Regions from separate parts of the Homo sapiens genome. Here region 1 is linked to region 2. The links come from fine-mapping of genetic effects on gene expression. Tissue or cell type: fibroblasts. Region 2 holds a variant in brackets; the other region holds the start of a gene. All regions are shown on one strand. Distances are from middle to middle.

Region 1 (8,182 bases), 29 kb after region 2:
GTTTATTAAATAATAAAATTATTTATTATAATTTTAGATAAAGATAAATTTATCTAAAATTGTGTAATTTCTTTGTGTAAGAAATTACACAAATTTCTTCTTGTGTAAAGTAACCAACTTGAATGTATCATTACCTCCTGTGAAAATAAAAAGTGTACTTTCCTTTTGAGACAAGGTCTTGCCCAGGCTGGAGTGGACTGGCACAATCATAGCTCACTGCAGCTTCCACCTCCCAGGCTCAAGTGATCCTACCGCCTCAGCCTCCTGAGTAGCTGAGACCACAGGTGTGTACCACCATGCCCAGCTAATTTTTATTTTTATTTTTTAGAGACAAAGTCTAACTATGTTGCCCAGGCTGGTCTTGAACTTTTGGCCTCAAGCGATCCTTCCACCTTGGCCTCCCAAAGTGCTGGCATTACAGGGTTCACCACTGCACCTGGCCAGAAGTGAACTTTTCAAACCACACACAAGACCCATCTATTATTCCTGGATGAGCCTTCAACATGGATAAGCATGATCAGCAAGGAGCTCAAGGGTGATTTCAAACCATGTTTAACTTACGGCTCATGAGTTCCTCCGGGGAGATTTCTGTCAGATCTAAAGTCATAGACAGAAGCTAGAATGGACTTTGAAGATCATGCCTCAGGACAGATAGAAAACCGTGACCCTGAGGGACTCCCTTTTCCAGAGCCACCTGCTGGCCAGTCCCGGATGGAGACCAGAACGCTGATGTCCAGCCCGCCCTTCTTTCCACTGCACTGCATTCTCTTAGCATTTCCTTTATCCAATGTCACCAGTAAATCAGAGAGACATTTGGTAAACTTAGATGGTATTTAGGACTGTCGTTAGATGCTGGTAGCAGTCATAATAAAATAATTAATATTCACTGAATATTTGCTGTGCACTGAGTGCTGTATAAGGAACTTTGATGCATGACCACATTTAAACCTCACAATCATCCAGTGAAACAGATTGTCATCCCATTATTTGGCTGAAGGAATACAGACTTAGGGAGATTTGGTAACTTGCCCAATAACATATAAGTAAAACAACGAAAGTGAGGCTGGACTCCAGGTTCGTCTGAATCAAAGCTCTTGCTCTTAACCCCTTGTTTTTAAACCCGTGTTCTTTGGCTTCTGCCTCTGTGTGTCGTCTGTCCCCCATCGGCCACCGCACCGCATAGGCCTACCAGTGTGGCTGGCCCTTCCTGGAATTTAGCGAATTTTACAGATAAGGGAACTGGGGCACAGAGAGGTTAGGGAACTTGCACAGAGTTACACAGTGAGTAAGTGACCTGAAGTGTGAATCATGAGGAAGGTGTGATATTGTGATTTATAATAAGAAATATATATTTGGTCTTGTCTCTGCTTCCTGGCACATAGTTCTTAAAATCCTTGCAATTGGCTGGGCATGGGGGCATGCACCTGTAATCCCAGCACTTTGGTAGGCTGAGGCGGGAGGATCTGGAGGATCGCTTGAGCCCAAGGGGTCAAGGCTGCAGTGAGCCATGATCATGCCACTGCACTCCAGCCTGGGTGACGGAGCAAGACCCTGTCTCAAATTTAAAAAAGAAAGAAAGAAAACCCCTTGGAATGTACAAAGTGATAAAGAGCCTTTTTGTATGCTAATGAGATGATTGACGACTGAGGGCTCCCAGATTGCCTCTGGAGGGGGCTGGTTGCCAGGGGAACCAAGCAAGTGATTAGAGAGTTGGAACTTTCAGCCCCTTTCTCCCTACTCCACCCATACACACCCCCTGACCCTGTTTCCAGGGAGCAAAGAGGGGCAGGAGGTTGACTCAATCACCGATGGCCAATGGTTTGATCAATCATGCCTTTGTAATGAGGCCTCCATAAAAACCCAAAGGAGCGGGTCTGGAGGGCTTCTGGATAGCTGAACACATGGAGACGCTGGGAGAGTGGCGCCCGGAGAGGACATGAAAGCTCCAAGACCCTCCCTAGCCATCTCTTCACCTGGCTGTATGTATTCATTCAACTGTATCCTTTGTAATACCCTTTATAATAAACTGGTAAATGGAATTAAGTGTCTCCCTGAGTTCCGTGAGCTATGCTAACAAAACAGTGACCCCAAGAAGTCAATCTCTGACTTACAGCACAAAGTTAGACAAAGTTACACAGCTTGTAATCTACCTGAGGAAGGATCGTGAGAACTTCTCATGGATAGCCAGCTAGTCAGAAGCACAAGTGACAACCTTCAGCCTGCAACTGGCCTCTGAGGTCGGGGCAGCCTGGTAGGACTGAGCCCTTAAACCTCAGGGTCTGCACTCACTGCAGTTAGTGTCAGAATTGAGTTAAACTGTGGGACACCTACTTAGGTGGGAAGGTGAGAATGCATTGACCTGACCAAATGGGATTTGTGAGGCCTGCGGTGGGCCTGGAGGGTGAATGATGCACACCTGTCCTTTCCCTTTGGAGCCTCCACCCCACCTGGGAGAGTCAAAAGTTCACTGGCAGAGTCAGAATTTCCATTCCTTGTCAGGACCTCCTCGTGGGGTGACTCATCCCTCTCCAGGGCTCTAGGACCGCACCAGGAGAACCTGGCCTCACTTAGAGACTGCCTGTTTTCATACAATGGGTTCAAGCATTCATGTTGCTTGGCGTCAAATTCATTTGAAAAACACCCTTTGTATTCTGACTTAATACCTCCAGGATCCGCAAACAGCATGGTGGCTTTAAACAAGGTGTACCTAGATAATAGATACAAGTTGAGGGAATTTGGAGAGGTGGGGAGACTTTCAAAGCATTAAATGTATTAAAGTCCCATGGTTCACCTCTAGCTTTATGTAAAAATTAAACCTCACCTTTTCATTTTATCAGGCTCCTGTCGATAACAAACACAAACCGCAAGTTCACTGACTCCACACCACGGGGCTCACCAGAAACTTATCTGATCAAAGCTGCCGTAGGTGATTCTTTTTTTCAGCAGGAGGAGGAGGACTTTCTAAAGCAACTCCCAGGACTCGAGATGTTGTAGCCCCCTCCCCACCTTACAGGTCGCAATGACAGCACAACCCTTTCCTTGCCCTTTGCGCACCCCGTGAGCTACGACAGGTGCCTCACTGAGCACCGAATGGGCCAGCCAAGAGATAAAGCAGGCACCAAAGACCGGTGCCTGAGTGGTTTTCCACCCTCACCCATTCACACCCCGGAAACCAGCAAGCACCCCGAGGTGTGGCTGGCTGAGCCCACATCAGGCTTCACCCCCGACTCACATGGCGTCCCCAGGCTCTGCTGACTTCTCACTTGGGTAGTCAAGGACAAACGCTCTATTCACCTGGGGCTATTTCTTCATTCCACAGTCGCACGGCAGAGGGACATAGTACCCTTTGAGCACTTTTATGGGGCAGTAAAACTTTACAGTCTCCTGTCTGCTCTAAACTGTTCCCACATTTCTGAATAGACCTATTTATAACATGCAAGACTACTACAGTTTGCCCTTTGAAAATACTAGCAGATATTAGGTCCTTTCAAATGGGGTCGACTGAGTTACATCGGCTAGCAGCTGGCTTACAGAAACCCCGGAGAGGCCCAGCTAAGCTCCTGACTGTGACTACCTATGTTAGGAAATAAAACAGCATTTGAGTCTCACAACATCACTGGAACTGGCCTTATGCTTTGCCACATTCATGTTGCTTTGGTGTCAAATCCAGCTGTGTCTCTCCCTCGATTTTTTGCTTCCTTACTCCCTTCCTGCCTGGATTAACAGAGCTCACTGTGAGCTTTGTCAGCAAATCCCAGTCTTTTCCTTCCCTCTTCTGCAGGGAAAAAATTAAAACCAGGAAAAAGTAGCAACCCAATCACAACTTGTTTCTCCCAGCCCCGGATTAACCAGCTGGCCCAGAAAAAGAATTATCCCACATTGAGAAGCGTCCTTACCTGCGTTCCATAACGGCCACTCCTGTGCATCGAAGACCAGAGCCAGCCTCCTCCAATCTGGGGACTTAGCTCCCCGCAGCCCGCAGACAACTGGGCCCATTATAGTCATCAAGCTGCCGAGTTAAAGGGTGGCCCTTACTAAAATATAAACAGCTAGTCAGCACAAGCCAAAGGGGCGGGGCTACAGTATCAGGGGACAATGAGAGCCAATGATCAGCCTCTTTGGGCTCTGTTTGCTTAAGATATTGTGTTTCATTCCGAAGTAGGGGAGACGGGAATGAGAAACACTGAAGAGTAAGGGCTGAGTTATCATCTTTACAGCCCCCAGTAGGAAAAGCGTCCAAGTTGAAAAGTTTAAATCACTGCCCACAGAAGACCAATTTCAGGAAAGTGTTTGTAGACTGCACACATAATAATATGTATTTTTAAAGCCACAGATATTTATGTTGCATTAGCTATCTGTTGTCTTCCGGGGTTAATAAATGTGGTATTCATGAGGTCAACGGGAGTTTTTCAACCAAAGAACAAAGGCCAAGAAAGTTAGTTTGATGACATGCTTATTTTATTGAATATACTATCTGATCAGGAGCACTCACCTCATCTACAGAGCAAACACTTGTTTGATTGGCACATCTTTATTTTATTTATTTATTTATTTATTTATTTATTGAGATGGAGTCTCGCTCTGTTGCCCAGGCCGGAGTGCAGTGGCACAATCTTGGCTCACTGCAACCGTAGCCTCCTGGGTTCAAGTGATTCTCCTGCCTCAGCCTCCTGAGTAGCTGGAATTACAGGAATGCACCACCACACCTGGTGAATTTTTGTATTTTTAGTAGAGACGGGGTTTCGCCATGTTGGCCAGGTGGGTCTTGAACTCCTGGCTTCAAGTGATCCGCCCGCCTTGGCCTCCCAAAGTGCTGGGATTACAGGAGTGTGCCACTGCGCCTGGTCTACTATTTTTTTTTTTTTTTTTGAGACAGAGTCTTGCTGTGTTGACCAGGCTGGAGTGCAGTAGTGTGATCTCAGCTCACTGCAAGATTGGTACATCTTTAGAACCCAGAGATATGGATTTATTGTATGCCCAAGTCAGCAAAATGGCTCACATTTGATGTGTTTATGTTCTTCTTCGTGTGTGTGTGTGTGTGTGTGTGTGTGTGTGTGTGTGTAGAGATGTGGGTCTCACTATATCACCCAAGGTGGAGTGCAGTGGCTATTCACAGGCACAATCATTGTGCACTGTAGCCTCAAACTCCTGGGCTCAGGTCATCCTCCTGCCTCAGCCTCCCTAGTAGCTGGGATTACAGGCTTGCACCTATAATCATGCCAGACCATGAGCATTTCATTTGATCAAACATATCAGAAGTTCAGTATATTTGGAAGAAGGCAGGAGAGCCGTGGCTTCTTTCTGTCTCCCAAACTTAACTAAATTCCACTTTTTTTTTTTTTTTTTTTTTTTTGAGATGGAGTCTCGCTCTGTCACCAGGCTTGAGTGCAGTGGCACAATCTTGGCTCACTGCAACCTCCACCTCCCAGGTTCAAGTGATTCTTGTGCCTCAGGCTCCTGAGTAGCTGGGACTACAGATGCGCACCACCACGACCAGCTAATTTTTGTATTTTTAGTAGAGACAGGGTTTCATCATGTTGGCCAGGCTGGTCTCAGTCTCTTGACCTCGTGATCTGCCCACCTCGGCCTCCCAAAGTGCTGGGATTACAGGTGTGAGCCACCGCGCCCGGCCTTAAATTCCCCTTTTAAAGCTATTACAGCAGCTTAACCTTCCAATGCCCTTTGATAATAACCAAGAACCAGAAAGTAAACTGTAGGGCTTTTTTTCCTTATATGATTTCTTTTTTTTTTTTTTTTTGAGACAGAGTCTCGCTCTGTCACCCAGGCTGGAGTGCAGTGGCGTGATCTCGGCTCACTGCAAGCTCCGCCTCTCGGGTTCAGGCCATTCTCCTGCCTCAGACTCCCGAGTAGCTGGGACTACAGGCGCATGCCGCCATGCCCGGCTAATTTTATTTATTTATTTATTTATTTTTTAGTAGAGTTGGGTTTCAGCCAGGATGGCTGGATCTCCTGACCTCGTGATCTGCCCGCCTTGGCCTCCCAAAGTGCTGGGATTACAGGCACGAGCCAACGCGGCTGGCCTCCTTATATCATTTCTAAATAATACACTGAAGTAAAAATAAAGTTAAGAGTTGTTTGGTTGATTGTGTGGCATTGCATAAATTATAGGCATACAAACTGTGAAAAGTACAGTCATTACATTTGAAATAGTTTCATCATTTATAAAGTGATATAGTAGTTATCAAAATGAACACAGTAGTTGTCAAAATGAATTATCAGAGAAAAATGTTGAAACGTATTTATTTTCCGCAAACTTTTTCTCAAGCCCTTCTGATTATAAAAATAATAATCCCCAAATGCCATCCTTTCTAATCTATATTAGTTTGAAAATGTTTATGATTCTGCCACTGGTGTTTAATTTGTATTAAAGTAAAATTCCTCCAGAACCTTTTCTAAATGATGTATGAGGCTCCTTCTGGCCCTTGTATCCTTCTAATTATTTCAAAAGAGCTGTTACATCCATACTTTCACAATTTTGACTTTAAGGTACAGGTTACCTTCCTGAAATAATCTAGTTTTCTTCTAAGGTGTGTGAACCCAGAAAATCTGAGACAGCTCTCAATTAACCTAGAAAGTTTATTTTTCCAAGGTTGAGGACACGCCCGTGACATAGCCTTCACAAGTGTTAGGATCCTGTCATTTTAAAAAGCTTCAGGACACCATGAGCAGCCAAAAGAAAAAAATCGATAAATTGGACTTCGTTAAAATTTTAAATTTTTTCTTTCTTTTTTTCTTTCTTTAGAGACAAAGTCCTACTCTGTCACCCAGGCTGGAGTGCAGTGGCCAGATCATAGCTTCATAGCTCACTGCAGCTTTTACCTCCCATCCTCAAGCTATCTTCCTGCTTGGGCCTCCCTAGTGCTCAGAAACCACAGCACATAACCAAAATTAAAACCTTTTGTGCTTCAAAAGACATTATCAAGAAAGTGAAAAGACAACCTATAGAATGGGAGAAAATATTTGCAAATAATATATCTGATAAGGTTCTAGTATCCAGGATATATTTTTAAAACTCCTGCAATTCAACAATAAAAAGACAAACAACCCAACCTAAAGATGGGCAAAGGTCTTAAATAGATATTTCTCTAAGAATAATACATAAATGTCCAACAAACACATGAAAAGATGCTCAACATTAGTCATTAGGGAAGTGCAAATCAAAAACACAATGAGGCTGGGCACGGTGGCTCACGCCTGTAATCCCAGCACTTTGGGAGGCCGAGTTGGGTGGATCATCTGAGGTCAAAAGTTCGAGACCAGTCTGGCCAACATGGCAAAATTCTGTCTCTACTAAAAATACAAAAATTAGCCAGGCGTGGTGGTGCATGCCTGTAATCCCAGCTACTCGGTAGGTTGAGGAAGGAGAATTGCTTGAACCCAGGAGGTGGAGGTTGCAGTGAGCTGACATCATGCCACTGCACTCCAGCCTGGGCAACGGAGCAAGACTATGTCTCAGAAGAAAAAAAACCCAAAAAACCAAATGAGACCAGGCGTGGTGGCTCATACCTGTAATCCCAGGAATTTGGGAGGCTAAGGCAGGAGGATCACTTGAGCCCAGGAGTTAGAGATTAGCCTGGGGAACATGGTGAGACCCGGTCTCTATTAAAAAATAATAACAATAATAAGGAAAAAAAAAAAGAAAAAAAACCACAATGAGGTGCCACTTTACACCTACTAGGATAGCCATATATATATATATATATATATATATTTTTTTTTCTTACTAAAAAGGAAGAAAACAAGTGTTGAGGAGGATGTGGAGAAACAAGAACCCTGGTACATTGCTGGTGGAATGTAAAATGGTTCAGCTGCTGTGGGAAACAGCTCTACAGTTCTTCAAAAAGCTAAACATAGAATTACCATATGAGCAAGCAATTCTACTTCTGGATAGATACCCAAAACAATTGAAAACGGGGGCTCAAACAAATACGTGTACATCCCATATTCATAGCAGCACTATTCACAATAGCTAAAGGATGGAAACAGCCCAAATGTCCATCAAAAGATGAATGGATAAACACATTGTGGTTATATACAGTGGAATATTTTTCAGCCATAAAAAGAAATGAAGTTCTACAACAAAGATGAATCCCTAAAACATTATGCTAAGTGAAAGAAGCCAGACACAAAAGGTTGCATATTGTATGATTATGGGCAACAC
Region 2 (8,182 bases):
TAATCAAAAATGCCTACAACAATGTGGTTATAATATGGTACTAATGTTTACATGCCTAATTGCTAAATGTAGCAACTCCAGCTCCAATTGCATGTAGAAGAAATATATTTAAGAGTCAAAAGACAAGTTAAACCTTAATTTCCCACACCCCAACCCCCAAAAGTTAAATTAGCAAGCAGAAAGCACAACCAAATCTAGCTGATTTTCAATTCTATTTGTTTCCTCAAACACTTATGAGAAAAGACAAGCAATGTAATGTCCTTGATACTGTAAGTTTACAAAGATGTTTAAGACATAATCCTCTGGCTGTGCGAGGTGGCTCATGCATATTACATGAGCACTTTGGGAGGCCCAGGCAGGAGGATTGCTTAAGCCTAGGAGTTTGAGACCAGGCCTAGGCAACATAGTGAGACCCCCATCTCTACCAAAAATTTAAAAATTAGCCAGGTATGGTGGTACACACCTATAGTCCCAGCTACTGAGGAGGCTGAGTTGGGAGGATCTCTTGAACCCAGGAGGTCGAGGCTGCAGTGAGCTGTGATTGTACCACTGCACTCCAGCCAAGGTGACAAGAGTGAGACCCTGTCTCAAGAGAAAAGAAAAGAAAGGAAAAAGAAAAGAAAAGAAAAGAAAAGAAAAAGACACAATCCTCAGACTCAAACAACTTGCCATAAAAAAACAAGTATGTAAAGAAACTGCTGTATAAAGGACAATCTTCTCCACAAGAAAAGTCCATAGTGGGTTGCTGTGGGATGCAAAGCAGAATTGAGGACAACTACTACTGTTTGTTTAAAAAAAGTAGATCACTAAAGGTTCTAGAATTGTCATGTGGTAGCATTTGAGAGGGCTTTAGTGGGTTTGTGGGGCTAAACAGAAAGAGCCAGCATGAATAGGCATACAAGGAAATGAGGTATGGGGCACAGTGAGGGAGTAAGGAGCCTAGTTTTCCATGGTATGAGGTACAAGGTGAGGATAAGTAGAAGAAAAGGCTAGAACATGCAATAGAAGCCATGTTGGGGATGGCCTTAACTGTATCCATGCATTCCCATGCTGCTATGAAGAAATACCCGACACTGGGTAATTTATAAAGAAAAAAAAGGTTTAATTGACTCACAGTTCTGCAGGACTGGGAAGGCCTCAGTAAACTTACAATCATGGCAGAAGGCACCTCTTCACAGGGTGGCAGGAGGGAGAATGAGTGCAAGCAGGAGAAATGCGAGATGCTTATAAAACCATCAGATCTCAAGAGAACTCTCTCACAATCATGAGTACAGCATGGGGGAAACTGCCCCCATGATTTGATCCCCACCGGATCCCTCCCACGACACATGTCACATGGAGCCCTCAGGAGACTTAGAATCTAGGGGGAAAGAAGGTAATCATAGTTTAGGTGGTCAAGAATTCTGATGGAGGTGAGCACAGGATGTTGGCAGGGTCCCGGAGGAGGTGACACTTGGGTTGAGCCTTGAGGGAGGAGTAGGGCTTGGTCAAAGGAAGAAGTGTGGAAAAGGTAATCTGATCAGAAGGAATAGCTGGTGCAAAACTGCAAAGCTCTTCAACAACCTGACACATTCAGGTCTGTAAGAAGCTCTAGAAAGAGGTGAATTGAGCCTTCTTTAAAAATGAAAAAGAATCACAGCCATTTATTAACTACTCTGTATGTGCTGGGTACTATTCTATACACACAAGAATTCATTTAATTCTCTTAACTTGGCGGGGCACCATGGCTCACACCTGTAATCCCAGCACTTTGGGAGGCTGAGGCAGGTGGATCACTTAAGTTGAGGAGTTCGAGACCAGCCTGGGCAACATGGTGAAACCTCATCTCTATGAAAAATACAAAAAATTAGGCAGGCATGGTTGTGCCTGCCTGTAGTCCCAGCTACTTGGGAGGCTGAGGCAGGAGAATTCCTTGAGCTCGGGAGGTCAAGGCTGTAGTGAGCCGTGATCATGCCACTGCACTCCAACCTGGGCAACAGAGCAAGACCTTGTCTCAAAAAAAAAAAAAATTATCTTAACTCTATGAAGCAGGCACAGCTTTTCCCATTTTACAGAGGAACAAACTGACTTTGAGTGCTTCAGAAATTTGCTTCTCAGAGTCACACAGCTGTCACCAATGATTAGTGACTTCAAGCCTACATCTTTCTGACTGGAAAACCAATTTGTATTAAGCCCTGAAGGATGGGAAAGAGTGAGTCATACAACAAAAAAGTGGAACAAGCATTCAAGGCAGAGGAAACCTGAAGACATATGTGTGTTAGTGGAGGAAGACCAACTAGAAGCAGTTTGGAAGCACCACATATGAAGTACACAGCTGGGGGCAGCAGAGGGGTCTGTGTGCTCGAGGGTGGGACAGGGCACGGGGAAGGTTAAGAATTGGAGAGAGAAAGTGGCAATTAATTGAGTTCCACTTTGGACATGCTGAGTTGGAGATGCATGTAGAACAACTGCCTGGAGATGTCAAATAGCTGCTGAGTTATAGTTCTAGGCTCAGAAGAAAGGTCTGGGCATTGAATAAAAATTTGACCTATAGATCTAGGCAGGAAAACAAATCATCATCACAAGCATTGACTGTTAACCAGGCACAGCACCTAATGCTACCTATGCATTTTCTGTTTAACACTCTCAACAGCCATACAGAGTAGGTAACTTATGAGCCTCATTTTACAGACAATGACTCTAAGCCACAAGGACATTCAGTAGCCTGCCTAGGGTCATAAAGGATCTGCATACTTCTACATTCAGTTTCCAAACTTTTGTGACTGAGATCCGCAGCAGAAATGTATTTTATGTTGCAGTCCAGTAATAGATACATATATTTCACTGAAACAAAGGTTGCATGAGATCACATTTAGCCCGATGCCCTCTGCTATTTCCTATTCTATTTCATTTTTCAGTAAACTGGCTGCAACTCACTAACTTGATTCACAACCCGCTCATGAAGCCCACAGTTTGAGAATCGCTATCCAACACCTTCTTTCCTCCCACCCCTGAATCACAGTGTGACTGCAAGGATAAAGGGAGATGCAAGCAACATCATAGATGTCAAGGAGAAAACTGCACTTCTGAGTGGTTGTGAGTCTTGAGCATAAAATGATGAGAATTCAATCTCTTCTGCCAAATAATGCCCCAAGGACATGTCTGTGGAAGCTAGCTCTTCCGCAGTGACTCATTTACACCTGTCAGGAGTATTTATGGGGATTGAAGCCATTATTGCTGCCAAGCTTTCTCACTGTATGGTGCAGGAAAAGATGCAGATGCACTTAACTTTGAAGAATTTTAAAGTTGTTAGTTCTAAAATTGCTATGGTATTACATTAGAGCAGGATTTGGGCACATATCCCAAAGCAAAGCAGCCCGGTGCCTGTACTCCCCTTGCATGTAATTCCTGCAAACAGTGATTGCAACAGGAAATCATACCTCCGTGGCAGAAATTA[T/C]GCAATGCAACATTTAACATCTCTCTCAGCAGGAAATGGTTTTGCTGGCAGGAGTTTTGGAATTAACCATAAAAAGATATCATAGACCCTGAATGTATGCATCCATCCTTCCTTCTACTTCATAGGAAGAGAGGAAATGTTCCTTCCCACCAAAATTGAAGCATTCTCAGTGGCCCACCTGCCTCCCTACCACCTCCACGCCTCACTCCTTCAACCCTTTCCTCTTTAACACCATCATCTCCTCCTTTCCCATGGGTTTCTTCCTTTCTGACTTCAAATACACATTGGTTTCCTCTAAAAAAACAAAAAAGCACCTCAGCAACAAAGAATTTTGGGGGTGATATAATTGGTCCTATCTCAACAGTAGTCATGGTTACAGAACTATATTCATTTGTCAAAATTCACAGAATTGAACATCAGAAAAGGTGAATTTGACTGTAAGTAAAGTAATCAATATCTCAAAAAGAAAACCCCACAACTTTCCAATAAAAACCCCCCACACCATTTTCTAAATCCTGCCACCCTGTAATTATCATCTGACTTCCTTCCTTCCTTTCTTTGGCACTTTCTTTTCCCCATGTCCTCATTTTAGCTAAACCAAAGTCTTCTCCCAGTCGTCCCTCTTCTCCTCCCACCTTCTACTGGAAACTCTTTTTCTTTGGCTTTGGAAGTAGAGAACTTTACCATTTCTCCTCTACTTTAAATGCTTCTTATCCTTATTCTTAGCAATCTTCTAACTCCGGGAATTTGCCAAAACATCAAGCCACTGCTCTTCTCCTACATTCACTCACTCAGAGGCCGCACCCACTCTTGTGATTAGATGACTGCTGGAATGCATTTGACTTCCAAATCTATGTCTAGAGAGGGGGCAGCTGGCTTAGGTTTCCAGTGGCCCAGGGGACAGCTCCACCCGGCTCTGTCACCACCTCCAATTCAGCACCTGCAGCTCTGAGTCTCCCCCTGCTGCCTTTGCTAGCCACTCTCACTGGAGTGGCTGACCTTATCACTGGAGCTTCTCTCCCAGGGCCAGAAACCCTGAAGACACCACTCAGCCCCTAAGTCAGGTACAAAGGAGAAAGGAGACATGGGAATGTTCTGTAAACTGTTATGTTCTAGACTTAACGACACATTACCATTGCTACTACTTAAATCTTTTCAACTCTTCCTTTGAAATGTGTCTTGATTTTATCTACTTTTCTCCACCCCCGCCCCAACCTATGGCCTCTAGTTCCCTCCCTTCCTTCCAGCATATTCTGCATGCTGGGGTCAGTCCACTCTCACTAAAACACCTCTTTGCCTCTCACTGTGCTGGTCACGACTCAATTTTTTTTATTTTTGAAAATTTATTATTTATTTATTGTTTTGAGATGCAGCCTCACTCTGTCACCAGGCTGGAGCGCAGTGGCATGATCTTGGCTCACTGCAACCTCTGCCTCCCAGGTTCAAACGATTCTTCTGCCTCAGCCTGCCAAGTAGCTGGGACTACAGGCGTGCGCCACCACGACCAGCTAATTTTTGTATTTTTAGTAGAGACGGGGTTTCACCATGTTGGCCAGGCTGGTCTCGATCCATCTGCCTGCCTCGGCCTCCCAAAGTGCTGGGATTACAGGCGTCAGCCACCTCGCCTGGCTACTCATGACTCTTTAAAGGTGGCTGTTAGAGTTGAATTGTGTCCCCCTCCCTCCAAAAAGATATATTGATGTCTCCCAGTACCTCAGATTGTGACTGTATTTGGAAATACTACAAGTTGAGTATCTTTTATCCTAATGCTTGGGGCCGGAAGTATTTTTGGATTTTGGTTTTTTTTCATATTTTGGAATATGTGCAGATACTGACTGGTTGAGCATCCGCAATCCAAAAGACTGAAATCCGAAATGCTCCAATGAGCATTTCCTTTGAGCATCATGTCAGCACCCAAAATGTTTTGGACTTGGAGCATTTCAGATTTTTGGATTTGGGATGCTCAACCTGTACAGTGTAGGTCTTTAGGGAGGTAATCAAGTTAAAATGAAGTCATTAGAGTGGGCCCTAATCCAATATGACTGATGTCCTTACAAAAAGGGGGAATTTGGACACAGAGACAGGCATGGAGGGACGATTATGTGAAGACACAGAACACTATTTATAAGCCAAGGGAAGCGTGGGACAGCCGGATGCTAGGACAGAGGCATGGAGCAGATTCTCCCTCATGCCGCCACCCTTTAGAGCACCTAAGCATCAAGTCTGTATTTCTCCAATAGGCACTGAAGATCCTCTTTGATTCCACCTCCTTATTTCACCTCAATGCCCACGACTTCCTTGCCTAGACCTGCTCAGTCCCTCCTCCCATCAGATGTGTCTGGCTCCTAATCCCTGTCTGGAAAATGACTCTCCACCTTTGCTTGGGTTGTTCCCAATGCCCATTGTGCCCTTCCCACTTCCCTCTTCCATCTAAATCTTGCACATTCTTTAAGTTCTAACTTTAGTCCCTCTTCCTCAATTATATTATCCTTGATTTATTACCTTATTGTGTTCTCTCTCTTTTCTGAACCATCATTGTACTTAATGTCTGTATCATATGAGTTGACACTTGATTGTCTTGTTCACATGACTCCCTAATGGTTTCCTATGTGATATTCTTGGGTCTAGAGTTAAATTTAAAGTAAACAATCTCTATTGAAAACCACTTTTCCAGACACTTTCCTAGATTTGTTTTCTCAACAAAACATCCTTTCTTCTAGAGCTTCCCACAATTCTTGTATCCATTTATCATATGTCAACCAATCAAGTATACTTGAGCGTGTATTTTAGTGAGAAAGACATCCTAGGTGTGAGTCCTGACTCCCCCTTTACTGGAAAAGTCACTTGACTTCTTGGAAACTTAGTTTCCTCGCTTCTAAGATGTTACCTCTCAGGGACATTGTCAAGATAAGATGGAATTATTTCTGTGAAAGTGATTTTTAAACAGTAAAGCCTTGCTCAAATGAGAGGTTAAATCATTATTATGATCTCAGTTCCAAGTGAGCTCAGCTAGTTACCTGCTATGTTGATGAAATTATAGGCTTGAACCAAGTGAGCTGGTTCTTCTAGATTTGTGCCACAGGGGCCAGTAAATTTCATAACTAATAAAAATTGATAGGATGGATGGAGAAAACTACAAAGCATATCCTGGTGGGTCAACAGGGTTATCTTCATAAATAAAAGACAGATAGCATACTGTCACCTCAATCTCCCTTAAGGCATGCAGTATCCCAGATTCTCAGGAGAAACTGACAGTCCCCATATTTCCAGCTGTGGTACAATAAATCAACAAGGTAATATGTTATGCCTGAGACAAGTGTTTGTTTGGTGTGTTTTTTGTTTTTGTAACTGAATTCTACTGGTTTTGAGACTGAACATGGGCTGGGTGCAGTGGCTCATGCCTGTAATACCAGCACTTTGGGGAGGTGGAGGCAGGCAGATCGCTTGAGCCCAAGAGTTGGAGACCAGCCTGGACAGCATGTCAAAACCCTGTCCTGCAAAAAATATACAAAAAGTAGCCAGTCATGGTGGCATGCACCTGCAGTTCCAGCTACTCAGGAGGCTGAGATGGGAGGATCGCTTGAGCCCTGGAGGCAAAGGCTGCAGTGAGCCATGATCAAGCCACTGTACTCCAGCCTGGGCAGCAGAGCAAGACCTTGTCTCTTAAAAAAAAAAAAATAGTGTGGATGGCAAACGTATTGAGGCTGTAAGTACCGTAGCAGTCATCATGTGTAAAATTCAGAAAGCCAGGGCCTAGGCCCCTAGAGACTGAAAGACAGATCTAGGACACGGGCAGGGGTGTATGTGCCTTGCCTTCTTCTCTCAGGTTAGCCTGTGAACTCCTGTCCCCCTCGGCCCCCATCAATAGATAGTAGCTGAATGAACTGGCTGAATAAGGAAGATTGAAGACTAAACTCTGCAGAGGTAGAAAGACCTGGCAGTACTTGGTGAATGCATTTATCCAAGGGACTTGAACGAGAGAAAATGCTTAGAAAAAAAATCTAACGAAAGAAATGTATTTAGTTCTATCGAGATTTAGTTTTAGCATGGAGTATACTGTGTGCAATAAGCACCAAAGATGCCAAGAATATTTTGTACTGCATTACAAATGAAAACCAGCTTCCGTGCAGATGGGATTCAGAATTTCATACCCTGGCAAATCTGTCTTCCTTCTATTACAGAAACTACTTCAACTGTTCCAAGCAAATGCTTAATAATTATTTCCCCTTCTTGATGTTTAAAGGCTTTTTAACAAGAAAAATGAATTTGATTTCTAGTAGATACTGTTTAAAAATTCAGAATCTGGCCAGGTGCGATGGCTCATGCCTGTAATCCCAGCACTTTGGGAGGCCGAGGCAGGTGGATCACCTGAGGTCAGGAATTTGAGACGAGCCTGGGCAACACGGCAAAACCCTGTCTCTACCAAAAAATACAAAAATTAACCAGGCATGGGACCTGTAGTCCCAGCTACTTGGGAGGCTGAGGCAGGATAATTGTTTAAACCCGGGAGGCGGAGGTTGCAGTGAGCAGAGATCGCACCACTGCACTCCAGCCTGAGTGACAGTGTGAGACTCTGTCTCAAACAAAACAAAACAAGTCAAAACGAAACAAAAAAATTCAGAATATTTGTTTAAGTGAAACAATATATGTGGACTACAAGAAAAATGCTTATAGAGGAAATCCCTAAGAAATCGAATTTCTTTGTCCTTTAATGAAATTGTGTTAAAAATGAGTAAAATATACTTT

The links. PIP is the estimated chance that this variant, and not a neighbour inherited with it, causes the effect.
Region 1: it holds the start of TRIM2, and the variant in region 2 is fine-mapped to the expression of TRIM2 in fibroblasts (GTEx, PIP above 0.99).

Annotation. Positions count from the first base shown.
Region 1 is chr4:153,200,275-153,208,456 of GRCh38, reverse strand. TRIM2 (tripartite motif containing 2) reads right to left here and starts at 4,014. Exons shown (of 12, transcript NM_015271.5): 1 at 3,897-4,014. The coding sequence starts at 3,926. RefSeq lists an enhancer at 1,558-2,463.
Region 2 is chr4:153,229,116-153,237,297 of GRCh38, reverse strand. All of the region lies in intron 1 of TRIM2 (tripartite motif containing 2), which reads right to left. Among named protein-coding and RNA genes, the nearest start is that of TRIM2, 29 kb to the right of the region's middle. The variant T/C (reference allele first, on the strand shown) is at 3,437.